Regions from separate parts of the Homo sapiens genome. Here region 1 is linked to region 2. Evidence: fine-mapped QTL for protein levels in blood plasma. A gene starts in region 2. The other region holds a variant in brackets. All regions are shown on one strand. Distances are from middle to middle.

Region 1 (8,434 bases), 73 kb before region 2:
ACTGCCAGTGTTCCCAAGGGCTCTTCAGTCAGCTTGTGGTGAATGCTTCTAGGCCTGGGACTCACCCTTCATGGCTGTGGGCTCCACTGTTCCCCAGGGCAGGTTCAGAAATGCCATCCAAGAGCCAAGTCCTAGAATCAGGGACCCCAGGAGCCCAGTTGGTTCTGTACCCCATTGTGTCCAAGCTGGTACCTAAGGTGCAAAACAAAGTCCCCTTTACGTTTCCCTCCACTTTTCCCAAGCAGAAGAAGTCTCACCCCATAGCTACCATAGTTAGGAATGTGCTGAGTCTCATGTGAAGCCAGCAAGTCTCAGAGTCTCACCCAAGGCCGTCGACATAGTACCTGGATATCATTGCTGGTTATTCAGGGCCCAAGGGCTCTTCAGTTAGCCAGTGATGTATCCTGCCAAAACTGGGTGCTTCCCTTCTAGGCAACTGGTTCCCTTCTGGCCCAGGGCGTGCCTAGAAATGTCAAGTGGGAGCTAGGGCCTGGAAAGGGGGCCTCATGACTGACCAGTGCCCTATCCTTCTGTGGTTGAGCTGGTATCCAAGATACAAGACAAAGTCCTCCCTACTCTTTTGTCTCCACTCCTGAAGTGGAAGGAAGGAGTCTCATTATTTTGAACTATGAGCTGTGCAGCCTGGGGTTAGAGGAGGGGTAATGCTGGTACCACTTTAGCTGCCTTGGTTGATGTCTCAGTATATTGTGTGCATTCACACCCTAGTCTGCTGGCTCTGGGCCCAGTTCAACACTAGTACTTGCCTAGGAGTTGCAGTCCTTCTGGCCTAGACTGAATTTCAAGTTTATTTGGAACCCCAGAGCACTTTAGCCCACAGTGGTAAGGCTTGCAGAAACTCAAGTTCTGACTGTTGGGGTCAGTGACTCCCCTCTGGGTAGGGCTGGTTTAAATCTCCCTCCATGGGTGGCCATCAGGTGAATGTGTTCCAGTTTTGCTTTCTCCTGTAACAAGGACAGTACTGATTTCAATGCCTCACAATTGCTGCGCTCTCCCTCTCCCCAGAACACAAAACTGCTCTCTGCACCACACTGCCACTGATGGGGGATTGGGGACAGGGTGGCATCAGCGATTCAAGACTGTTTTTCCTACCTCTTCAGTGCCTTTTTCAGCAGTATGAAGTTTCAGCAGTATGAACATGTGTGGCTATTAACAATTTGCTCTGGAAGATGGAAGGAGGATAGAGCATCCCCAGGAGGAGCCCAGGCCTCAGCTGGGCCGGGAACATTGCGTGACATACTCAGAAGTTGGCCTCTGCTCCTTTGCTCTGTGTATGTCCATAATTTCATGTGTAACTTCAGAAGCTTGTGGCTAGTTAGTCCAAGCCCCTTTTGGTGCATCTGGGTTTAGTTATCTTCATTGCTGGCATTCAACATAGTAACCTGGGCCCTAGGTTATACAGTCTTGTCCAGGATAAAAGGAACTCCCCTAGCAGCAAAAGGAGAGGGCACCAAAGCCAGGAAGATGGGGCCTGGATTCATTTTCTGGATCTGCCATCCCAAAGCTTTGTGGACTTGGGCAAGCTCCCCCACCTCCCTGAGCCTGAGATGCCTTCACTGACCGTGTGAGGATAAGAACTCCAACCCCCTTGGCTTCCTCTGAGGCTTGAATGAGGTCCTATGTGTAAAGTACCTGTCATGGCCCTGGTGCGTGACATGGATTCCCTCCCCTTGCACCTTAGCAGTGGAGGTGAGCTCCAGATTTTTCAAGGGTACCTACTAGGGGCTGACAGAGGACTCAGCATGGTTTGGGAGATAATGTTACTCTTGGCTTCTTAGCATGTATTTCTTAAGCACCAGCTCTGTGAAGAAACACACACAAACACACACGCACACACACACACACACACCCCACTATGCCAGAACTACTGCGAACTCAAAAAGCATTGGGACATATTCTTCAAGTCTGAAAAAAGAGAAAGGAAAAGTAGACGGGGAAAGGAAGCAAACAAGAGACCTAGGAGAGTTTTAAGCAAGATACTAGCCATTTCAGAAAGGATGAGCTCTTCTTCAATTATCTTCCTCCTGCTCCTCCTCCTCTCCTACTAGTACTTCTACTACCATTGATAATAACAATATTTCCTACAGGTGCAGGTCATTATGCCAGTAAATCACCTTCTCTTGTGGGCTTCTTGTCACATGAGCAAGATGCACAAGCCACAAACCATCATGATGGAGGGCTCAGGCTTTGGAGTAGGACACCCGGAGTTTGAATCTCTGTTGTACAACTAGAAACATGGCCTTAGGTGTATTGTCAAACCTCACTAATCTCCAGACAATTTTTTTTTTTTTTTGAGACAGAGTCTAGCTCTGTCACCCAGGCTGGAGTGCAATGAAGCAATCTCAGCTCACTGCAACCTCTGCCACCCGAGTTCAAGCAATTCTCTTGCCTCAGCCTCCCCAGTAGCTGGGATTATAGGTGCCCGCCACCATGCCTGGCTATTTTTTCTATTTTTAGTAGAGACGGAGTTTCACCGTGTTGACCTGGCTGGTCTCGAACTCCTGACCTAGTGATCCACCCACCTCAGCCTCCCAAAGTGCAGAGTTATTCACATTATAATTATAATCGTACCTTAGAGAACTATCGTGAGGAGTAAAGGAGGAGCCATAAGTTAAGTTCTCACCTTGGTGCCTGGCACATGATGAACTCAACATATGTACATTATTGTGGACATTATAGTTCATTCTGGAATGTGGCTGCCTGGATTGGAAGCTCAGCTCTTCTACTTATGCGATATGTGGCCTAGGGTAAGTTACTTAAGCTCTCTGTGCCTAGTTTCCTTCTTAGGGTTTAATTATCCATACTGCTAACAATCAATGAGGTGGCCTTTTTCATTTTATTTCATTCTAAAAACCTACAATAGGATTGTTGTGAGAATTAAATGAAATATATATATATGTATTTATATTATATTATATTACAAGAAGTGTATTTCTTAGACTATCGGCTGGCATATAGGAAGCACTATATACATGTTTGTGGTTATTCACATTTCTTGAATAAATAATCTAGGTGAATTGTGAATTTAACACCTACTAAGTGCCAGGCAGTGAACAAACTAAACCATCCCTACACTCATGAAGCTTACATTCATGTGGAGGAGCAGCTAATAAACAAAATAGGATGCTAGATAAACAGGAAAGGGGTACAAAGTGTGCTGAAGGTGGAAATGGGGGGTTATCCTCCAATACGAGACCTTTGGAGTGAAGGTCTGAAAGACGTGGAGGTGCAAGCCATGCAGGTGTCCAGGGGAAGCACATCCCAGGGCAGTGATAAAAGATCAGAAATGCTATAACTGCCATCACCCAGCCTGCTCAGGGTGGGTGCCCATCCAAGGTCACTTTGGAAAAGTTAGGTCCTCAGCAAACAACCCTGCTCCCTAATAGCGTATGAATCCCATTAACGCATAATGTGTGGAGGGTTTGTTTTATTTTTTAACCCTACCTCAGTTTATGAGTGTGCATGTACACAAAGTGCATACACTGTATGGTGAGAACATGCCTGGTGTGTTTGCGAAACACAGAGCAAACAACTATGGCTGGGTCACAGTGAGCCTGGGGAAGGAGCAGGGACACAGTTAGGGAAAACAGCCAGGAGGGGTGTGTGTGCAGATATCAGGGTTGTCAAAGCCCTCATAATGACTCCAGCTTTTAAATGATTATAGAGGCAGGTGTGGTGGCTTAAGTCTGTAATGCCAGAACTTTGGGAGGCCGAGGAGGGAGGATTGATTGAGCTAGGAGTTTGAGACTACAGTGAGCTATGACCATGCCACTGTGCTCCAGCCTGGGTGACAAAGTGAGACCCTGTCTCCATAAATAAATAAATAATTATATGGAGCAGGTAGTACAGAAGGGTCAGTATCCACAATACTAACAACTAAGGACCAAAGAAATGTACTGACCTGCCCTGGGAAATTCATGGCAGGAGATGCCTTAGAACCAGAAGGTGGCCCCTGAGTCGGCAGTCTTTATATTGCACCGTGCTGTCTCCCACCCTGCTGAGGTCATGAGAGACCTTTTCCTTACTCGATGCTCACAGCAACACTACAGGACTGGTGTTAATATCTCCACTTTACAACAGAGGACACTGAGTCTTAGAAACGTTAAGTGCTTTGTTCAAAGTCACATAGGATTGGAACCAGATCAATTGGACTTCAGAGGTCTTGTTCTTTCCATTAAAGCATGTGATATGAAATCTGAAAGATACACATTTGTGCTCTGAATCATCTATGCAGTGTCCATCTAGATGTTGGTACCCTTTTCAGCCTCTCTACCCAGTGGCCTCTCTACTTACTTGTGTCTGTGCTTGTTCAGCTTTGTCACCATGACAACCATCCCTCTGTCAGAAACACCCTGTCCTCAGTCTTGACTGACTCTCCCTGAATGAAAAGATCCTTCCATTCATAGGTAAAATATGGAATTTATTCAGAAAAACCACTCAGTACAATGTGTACTACAGGATATCACTTGGCTCACATCACAGACATGGACTATATGACTTTACAATAAATTAGATGGGAAGGCAGCCCTTTACTCCCAGGATGGCCTGCAGGCCCTTTCAGCAGATAGAGTTTATTACAAATACCACAGTAGACTTTTTGGCTATTTTCAAGCGGAATAAGACAGCCTGAGGCCAGCCAGTGGGACTTTCAGCTGCAAGGGGCCTTCCCCATCTCCTTCCCCTTCAAGGTGGGCTGTCTCCCACAGTAAACCGCACAGGGGGTGTTCATCCCTGGATCACTATACAGGTTCCTTGTCATCAAGCTGAG[A/G]ACATTACTTCATGATTCTTATTAATCCAGGCTAGAAAGACGTCGAGCTCTCCCAGGGATTTAATGGCAGCAGCGTGGACCTCCAGCTGAAATCAGAGATCAATGTAAGAACCCACCTTTCTAGACTGTGTAATGGTTTTCAAGTCACTTTCTTCATATGCTGGTTCCCACAAGGTTTTGTTTCTGTTTTTGTTTTTTTGTCACGAAATATATTTGCATAACATACAGACTCAATATTATTTTCCTCGCAGGCAACCAATTTTTTTCCCCACAAACAAGTAGTTAAATTATGTCAGCTCCTTATAAACAGAACTTTAAAATTCTTCATTCTTTTCCCTCAGGTTTTTTTTTCCTCTGTTTTTCACAGGAAAAAAAAATCTGCCTTACTGGCCAGTTCCGCTGATTTTCTTCTCCACACCAGCTTGCTTTAGTGCTTCTGTTATCCCAGAACATCTTTGTCCCTGAGGTGCTGGACAGTGGGTAGGGAGAGCATGTTGTCCTCATTTGACATATTAGAGCACTAAAGCCCCTAGAGCAAGTGTCCTACCCAATGTCACACAGCCAGTTAGTAACAGAGCTGGAAATGAAACCCAAGTCTCCTGCCTTATTCCACCTCCTTCCTCAGCAGACTGAGTTCATGCTTTTAGCGCGTCCTGTAGAGCCAGCCAGCGTGGAATTGAATCCTACCTCTGCCGTGCAGTTGCAGTGTGAACTTAGTTTAGTTACTTTACCTGCTCGAGCCTCAGTTTCTTAATGTATCCAATGCAGATAATGACTCATAGCATTGTTGGGAAGGACGAATGTGTGTTAATACTTGTTGTGTGCCTAGAGCAATACCTGGCTTATAGTAAGAACCATGTAACTCTTAGCTATTTCTATAACATTATCTTACAGAGTCTCTCCACAAAGAAGCAGAGCCCATAACAGACTCCCTAACTCTTGCTCTTCAAAGCATTGGTATCATTTGACAGTGTGATCTAAATGCAGAAACTCAGGCTCATCCCAGCCCTGCTGAGCCAGAATCTGCATTTTAACAAGATCTTGAACTGATGCTCATGAGAAACACTGCTTCTTCCTCTACCTCCACGTGAGATGTGCATTTTACACCAACATCAACATGAGAAGTACCATGTCTTCATCACTACACACAATATGGGGGGGCAGGTAGTGATCGCAGTGACGGCGTGCAGGTAACACGTTTCAGGCGTAACAGCTCACATTTCATGGGGGATCTTTGCTCCCTCTGTGTCATCCCATCTTAAGCAGTGGGTGCTTTCCCCAAATCATACAGGTCAGGCTTGATATATGAGGGTATGAGAAAATGGTGGAGGAATGATGGAGATGGGGAGCCCAGGAGATTAGCAAATGAGGTAAAATCAAAACTCTCTTTACAGACACAGAGAATTGAGGCCTGCCCACAATGGCTGCTTATAGAGTGAATGCATGAATTTAAGTGGAGAGGAGGCTGAAGGCCTGGCACCCTCCTGATCTACCTCTCATCTTCCATCTTCCCCAACCTCTTCCCAGATCTTACCTGATCATAGTTGTCATGGATGACTCTGGTGGCATTGGTGGCTTCCTGCCTGCAGTGACACTGCCTCTGTTCCTGCTGTGATAAAGTGGAGGAAGCTCCTATCAGAGGACATTTCCACTCTGGCCCTCTCTTACTCCTGCCTCCCCACATGAGAAGTGACATTTCTCCTCCCTCCCACAGTGAGAGTCAGATGAGTAAACTCAGGTGGGAGCAGCCACGGAAGAATAGAGCTTGTCTGTAGAGTCACCTGCATCTGCCCACGCCTTTTGTTTTTTCTGCATTTAGAACACATCAGACTGTCAGCACTAGGAAAGCAGGCACCATATCTGTCTTATCACCACTCTGAGTGCTGCATCCCACAGGGTAGGCACTCAACAAACATTTGTTAAATGTTAATTATTAATTAGATAATTAATTTTAACGAATTGTTAATTAAACAACTGGTTAGGTGAATTTATTTGAGTCCATTATCATATTAATGCAAGTAGGACAGGGGCCATCAACTCTTCTAACAATTTTAGAATCCGAGGCACAGAGAGGTGAAGTCACTTGCCACAAAGTCTCACAGGAAATCATTAGCAGGAATGGGGCTAGAGCCCAGGTTCTCTCCTGGTCTAAGTTTTTGTTGGTTTGTGTTGGTTTTGTTTCTGATGTTGGATTTAAATAGATCGCAATGAATTTCTAAGTAACCTTTAGGGATAGGCCATACCAAGGAACTACCCAGAGGTTTATTGATGTAAAGACACCAAAGGGCCAGAAATAAAGAAACCAGGGGTATGCTTACAGTAGAACTGGAGTCCTTGCCATGCCTCTTACTAAGGAATATGTTGACATAAGTTGGTCACCCCAGGAGGGTTATCTAGGAGGAGACCATCTGAGGAGTTGTCAGCAGGCAGGGAGCCCTGGGGAAGCAGTGGCCACTGGGAGAGGTTCTCCACAGTTCTCCCTGTGGACGTGCGCAGAGAATTTCCTTTGACTCCAAGCACCATATCAGGAGGCCGATGGGGGCCAGCACTTCCTGGCCTCTCCTTGGGCAGACAGGGAGCAGATGCTGGAATTCTGACCCAGTGACTCACACATTGCCGCAGAGTTTTCTGCATGTAGAGGAAAGAGTTGGCAATGCTGCTGATTTTTCTCAAGATTTTGGGGTTTGGCTCCTGATGATCCTTGAACACCCTGTCCACGTAGAACGCCAGGAGGTTCTTGGTCACGCAGCACACATCTAAGGGCTACAAACACAAATTAGGGAAACACTAGAGGCCTCTTCTCTCATTATGTTGGAGACCAGGGCAGTCCATTTGAGTAGGGGCAGCGACACATGAGAGAACTAAAAGTCATTTTGGAAAAATTCGTAATGGTCTCAGAGTGTTCATCCTCTCTTATTCCCATCAAAGCTACTTATGACAAAAATAGTGAGAAGAGATTCCAGTTCTCCCCTTTTTCTGTATGGCCGAGAAATACATTTACTAAGGATGGGGCCCAGAATCCATCATAGGCTAATTCTCTCTGCAGTATCCCTAGCGTGTCATCACTAACTTCCACTGAAATCTTTCCAGGAACCAGTTGCCTCCTTTTTAAAAGGACTGATGGCTGAGCAGCTTTCTTGAAAAGAACTTCCCTACACTACAGGGGCTGAAGTTGCCTCTCTGTTATGTCTCCCATCTGCCAACATGCAAGGGCTGTTGCATGCCAGTCATCCTGCTAGGTATGCATTCCTCCAACTGTAATCACATTGCATTCATTCTGGCCACCTTACTCTGGACCACACTGCTCAGCTCTCCTGTAGTCTGTCCTTTTAAAACCAGAAAGGTCATTGGAATGAGGCTGAGATTTGCAAGAGAGACCGACAGCTGCAGAAATGGGCATATTTGGGTAGGTCTGCAGCCTGCAGAGTGCAGATGTCCCAAAGAAATAGTCTCTAAATTCCCAGGCACAGCCCAGTGAAGTTGGCTAGACAGTTTCCTTCTAGAAGTTTGCCCGCCATCTGCCCTGAGAGCCAGTTACTCTGCAGAAGATTAACTGTTCAGTCTAAGCAGGGAGTGGTTAACGGTGGGACAGCACACCCATCTTCATTCAAGAAGCAAAGCCTCCTTGGCCCCAGTGTCAGCTTTTCC
Region 2 (2,841 bases):
TCAGCACATCCAGCAGCCAGAGGGTTTACAAAGGGCTCAGTCCCTTCGGGGAGGCTTCTGGTGAAGGAGGATCGCTAGAACCAAGCTGTCCTCTTAAGCTAGTTGCAGCAGCCCCTCCTCCCAGCCACCTCCGCCAATCTCTCACTCACCTTTGGCTCCTGCCCTTAGGGTTACCTGGGTTGCCAAGCCTTGTCTGAGATGATCCAGTTTTACCTGGAGGAGGTGATGCCCCAAGCTGAGAACCAAGACCCAGACATCAAGGCGCATGTGAACTCCCTGGGGGAGAACCTGAAGACCCTCAGGCTGAGGCTACGGCGCTGTGTAAGTAGCAGATCAGTTTTTTCCCTTGCAGCTGCCCCCAAAATACCATCTCCTACAGACCAGCAGGGACACTCACATCCACAGACACAGCAAAGACACAGACTGGCAGAGCTAGCTGTAAATGAGGAAAGACTCCTGGAGTCAGATCTCTTGCTCATTTCTCTTTGAGCAGGCGTTGGGGGTGGCTGCTAGGCATTTACATGTGAAATTTGCAAACAGCTTTCCTGTTATTTGTGAGTCATTTGTGGGTTATTAACTACTCCCCTCTCTCTTCATAAAAGGAGCCCAGAGCTTCAGTCAGGCCTCCACTGCCTCTTTGTAACTAGACCCTGGGCGGGGAGCTAAGGTTCCCAAGCAGAGGAAACATCATTCACCTCTTTTAATCTCAATGTTTTGAAAGCAAAGCTCTAAGAAGGGCCCAATTGACTGACAGGATTTCCCCTGGCATTTTAGAAGGGACAAGGGGGCTATTCATCCCCAGGCTAGTGTCTATGAGTAATTCCTCCAGGTAATTTATTTCTCCAACTGAAATGATGCCCTCACTACTAATGGTTTCCCCTGTTCTGTCACCAATATTGGAAAATCAGTTGGTGTCTATTTGTAGGACAAGGCTATGTGAAGGGTTTGGTCCCAGTAGCTTCCCTCCTCAGATGCTTAGAAGTGTTCCTCGGTGGCTGTGACTGACGGGGAGGAACAGGAGAGAGAGGCAGAAAAGGACAGGCTGAAGAATGCCTCGCTCAGCACTGCAGGAGATACTGTAGAGTTCTGGGGGAGGAAGGAATCCCAAGACCTGGGTTGTCATCCAAGCCTTGCAAACATCTTGGAGTGAGTCCTGGAGAAATACATTTAACTCCCAGGGCCATGGAAGCAGGGCTCAGTTCTCTCTGGGAGCTGTGAGGCAAGGCATTTGGATAAATCTGGCCTCCTCATGATGCCACCAGCTTGTCCCCTAAGTGTGATGGACATGGAGCTGGAAGCCAGGATCACCAACACTTTCTCTTTTCTTCCACAGCATCGATTTCTTCCCTGTGAAAACAAGAGCAAGGCCGTGGAGCAGGTGAAGAATGCCTTTAATAAGGTGAGCTTGGATGGTGGCAGAGAGGGTCTGCAGAGCACAACCCATGCCCACTCCCCAACCCCAAAGCATGGAAGGTGGTGGGGACTCAATAGGCCCCATTCTTCATTGGAGAGAGTGTGGGAACCTGACAGATGGTATGACCTGCTCAGCCAGTGAGGAGCTGCTGCCTTGATTGTATTTGTTTTCTGTTAAGTGTCTTTGGGGGTTTCTAAATGACTGCTCGCTGCCTTTGCAGGCTTGCGGGTTAGGCTGGCCGGCCAGCCTGTGAACACAGTGAGCTGCATGCTGGGGAGAGTGACAAAGGAAACAGAAAGTACAGAAAGTAGCTTGTTGGGAATCTAGGCTGAACCCACACGTGCAGGAAGCTGGCACATAAATGTGCACATACAAATACACCTGGGGGTTCAGCCCAGACTCCCCAGAACTCAGAATGAGCAGGAAGCTGGATTCTCACTTAACCTGGAGTTGGTTCAAGCCCGCTTTCCATCTGCCCTTCGCACCTGCGGAGGTGCCTGAGAATGTCAGTTCCCAAACGAAATGGGGTTTCACACTTCCAACTGTGCGTGAACTTTTTCAGTCTGATTTCCCAGAAACCGTGCGGCCTATGTCCTCCTCGTGGGCTGGGGACAGACACTGCACAGAGTGCCAACATCAGGGGGTGTGAATTTCTCATAGTAGGTCAGGGCGGCAGGGCAGGGCCTGCTCAGTGTGTTGGTGGGAGAACACAGACATTTAAAAGGCTCCCTCCTCTCCTCTCACCGTCTTGCTTTCGAAGCGCTTCCTCTAATGTCTTTTCATCAAACTCTGCATAATCATCATGTGAATACGTGACCTTTAAAATTGTTGAAAAGGCATCATTTTGAAGACAGTGCTTTGCAAAATGAATGCTCCCCTTGCTAGGGGGAGGCCTGGAGGAGATGAAGGTCAATGCACAGCCTTTCCCAAGGCAGCTAGGCCTATCCTCTGGTTTACTTCCCAGCGTGAGGGAGAACAAGCAACCTCTGCACTCAAGGTCATGCCCATCCATGAGCATGAGGGAGGGGAGCCTATTTAGTCCCCAGAAAGGATTTTAACTGTATGTTTCTTATCTCTCTGCACAGCTCCAAGAGAAAGGCATCTACAAAGCCATGAGTGAGTTTGACATCTTCATCAACTACATAGAAGCCTACATGACAATGAAGATACGAAACTGAGACATCAGGGTGGCGACTCTATAGACTCTAGGACATAAATTAGAGGTCTCCAAAATCGGATCTGGGGCTCTGGGATAGCTGACCCAGCCCCTTGAGAAACCTTATTGTACCTCTCTTATAGAATATTTATTACCTCTGATACCTCAACCCCCATTTCTATTTATTTACTGAGCTTCTCTGTGAACGATTTAGAAAGAAGCCCAATATTATAATTTTTTTCAATATTTATTATTTTCACCTGTTTTTAAG

Direction of the effects. Positions count from the first base shown, and alleles are read on the strand shown. Strength reflects both the effect of a copy and how common the allele is.
In carriers of allele G in region 1, the plasma level of the protein whose gene starts at base 455 in region 2 tends to be higher than with A alone (strong association).

The links. PIP is the chance, under the fine-mapping model, that this variant and not a neighbour inherited with it causes the effect. Protein levels are from antibody-based Olink assays in UK Biobank. Linkage for the fine-mapping came from a reference panel and not from the study's own genotypes, which makes the PIPs less certain.
Region 1: its variant is fine-mapped to the plasma level of the IL19 protein (UK Biobank, PIP above 0.99). The variant lies in the coding sequence of IL19. If it changes the protein, the assay may bind it differently, which can mimic a change of level.

Annotation. Positions count from the first base shown.
Region 1 is chr1:206,838,965-206,847,398 of GRCh38, reverse strand. It overlaps IL19 (interleukin 19), which reads right to left. Exons shown (of 7, transcript NM_153758.5): 5 at 7,397-7,549; 6 at 6,321-6,395; 7 at 4,418-4,872. The coding sequence ends at 4,777. LOC105372878 (a long non-coding RNA gene) reads left to right here and starts at 4,578. Exons shown (of 3, transcript XR_922482.3): 1 at 4,578-4,890; 2 at 5,681-5,976; 3 at 6,181-6,359. The variant A/G (reference allele first, on the strand shown) is at 4,787.
Region 2 is chr1:206,768,387-206,771,227 of GRCh38, reverse strand. IL19 (interleukin 19) reads right to left here and starts at 455. Exons shown (of 7, transcript NM_153758.5): 1 at 150-455. IL10 (interleukin 10) reads left to right here. Exons shown (of 5, transcript NM_000572.3): 3 at 169-321; 4 at 1,334-1,399; 5 at 2,500-2,841. The coding sequence ends at 2,592. RefSeq lists enhancers at 105-294, 1,855-1,964.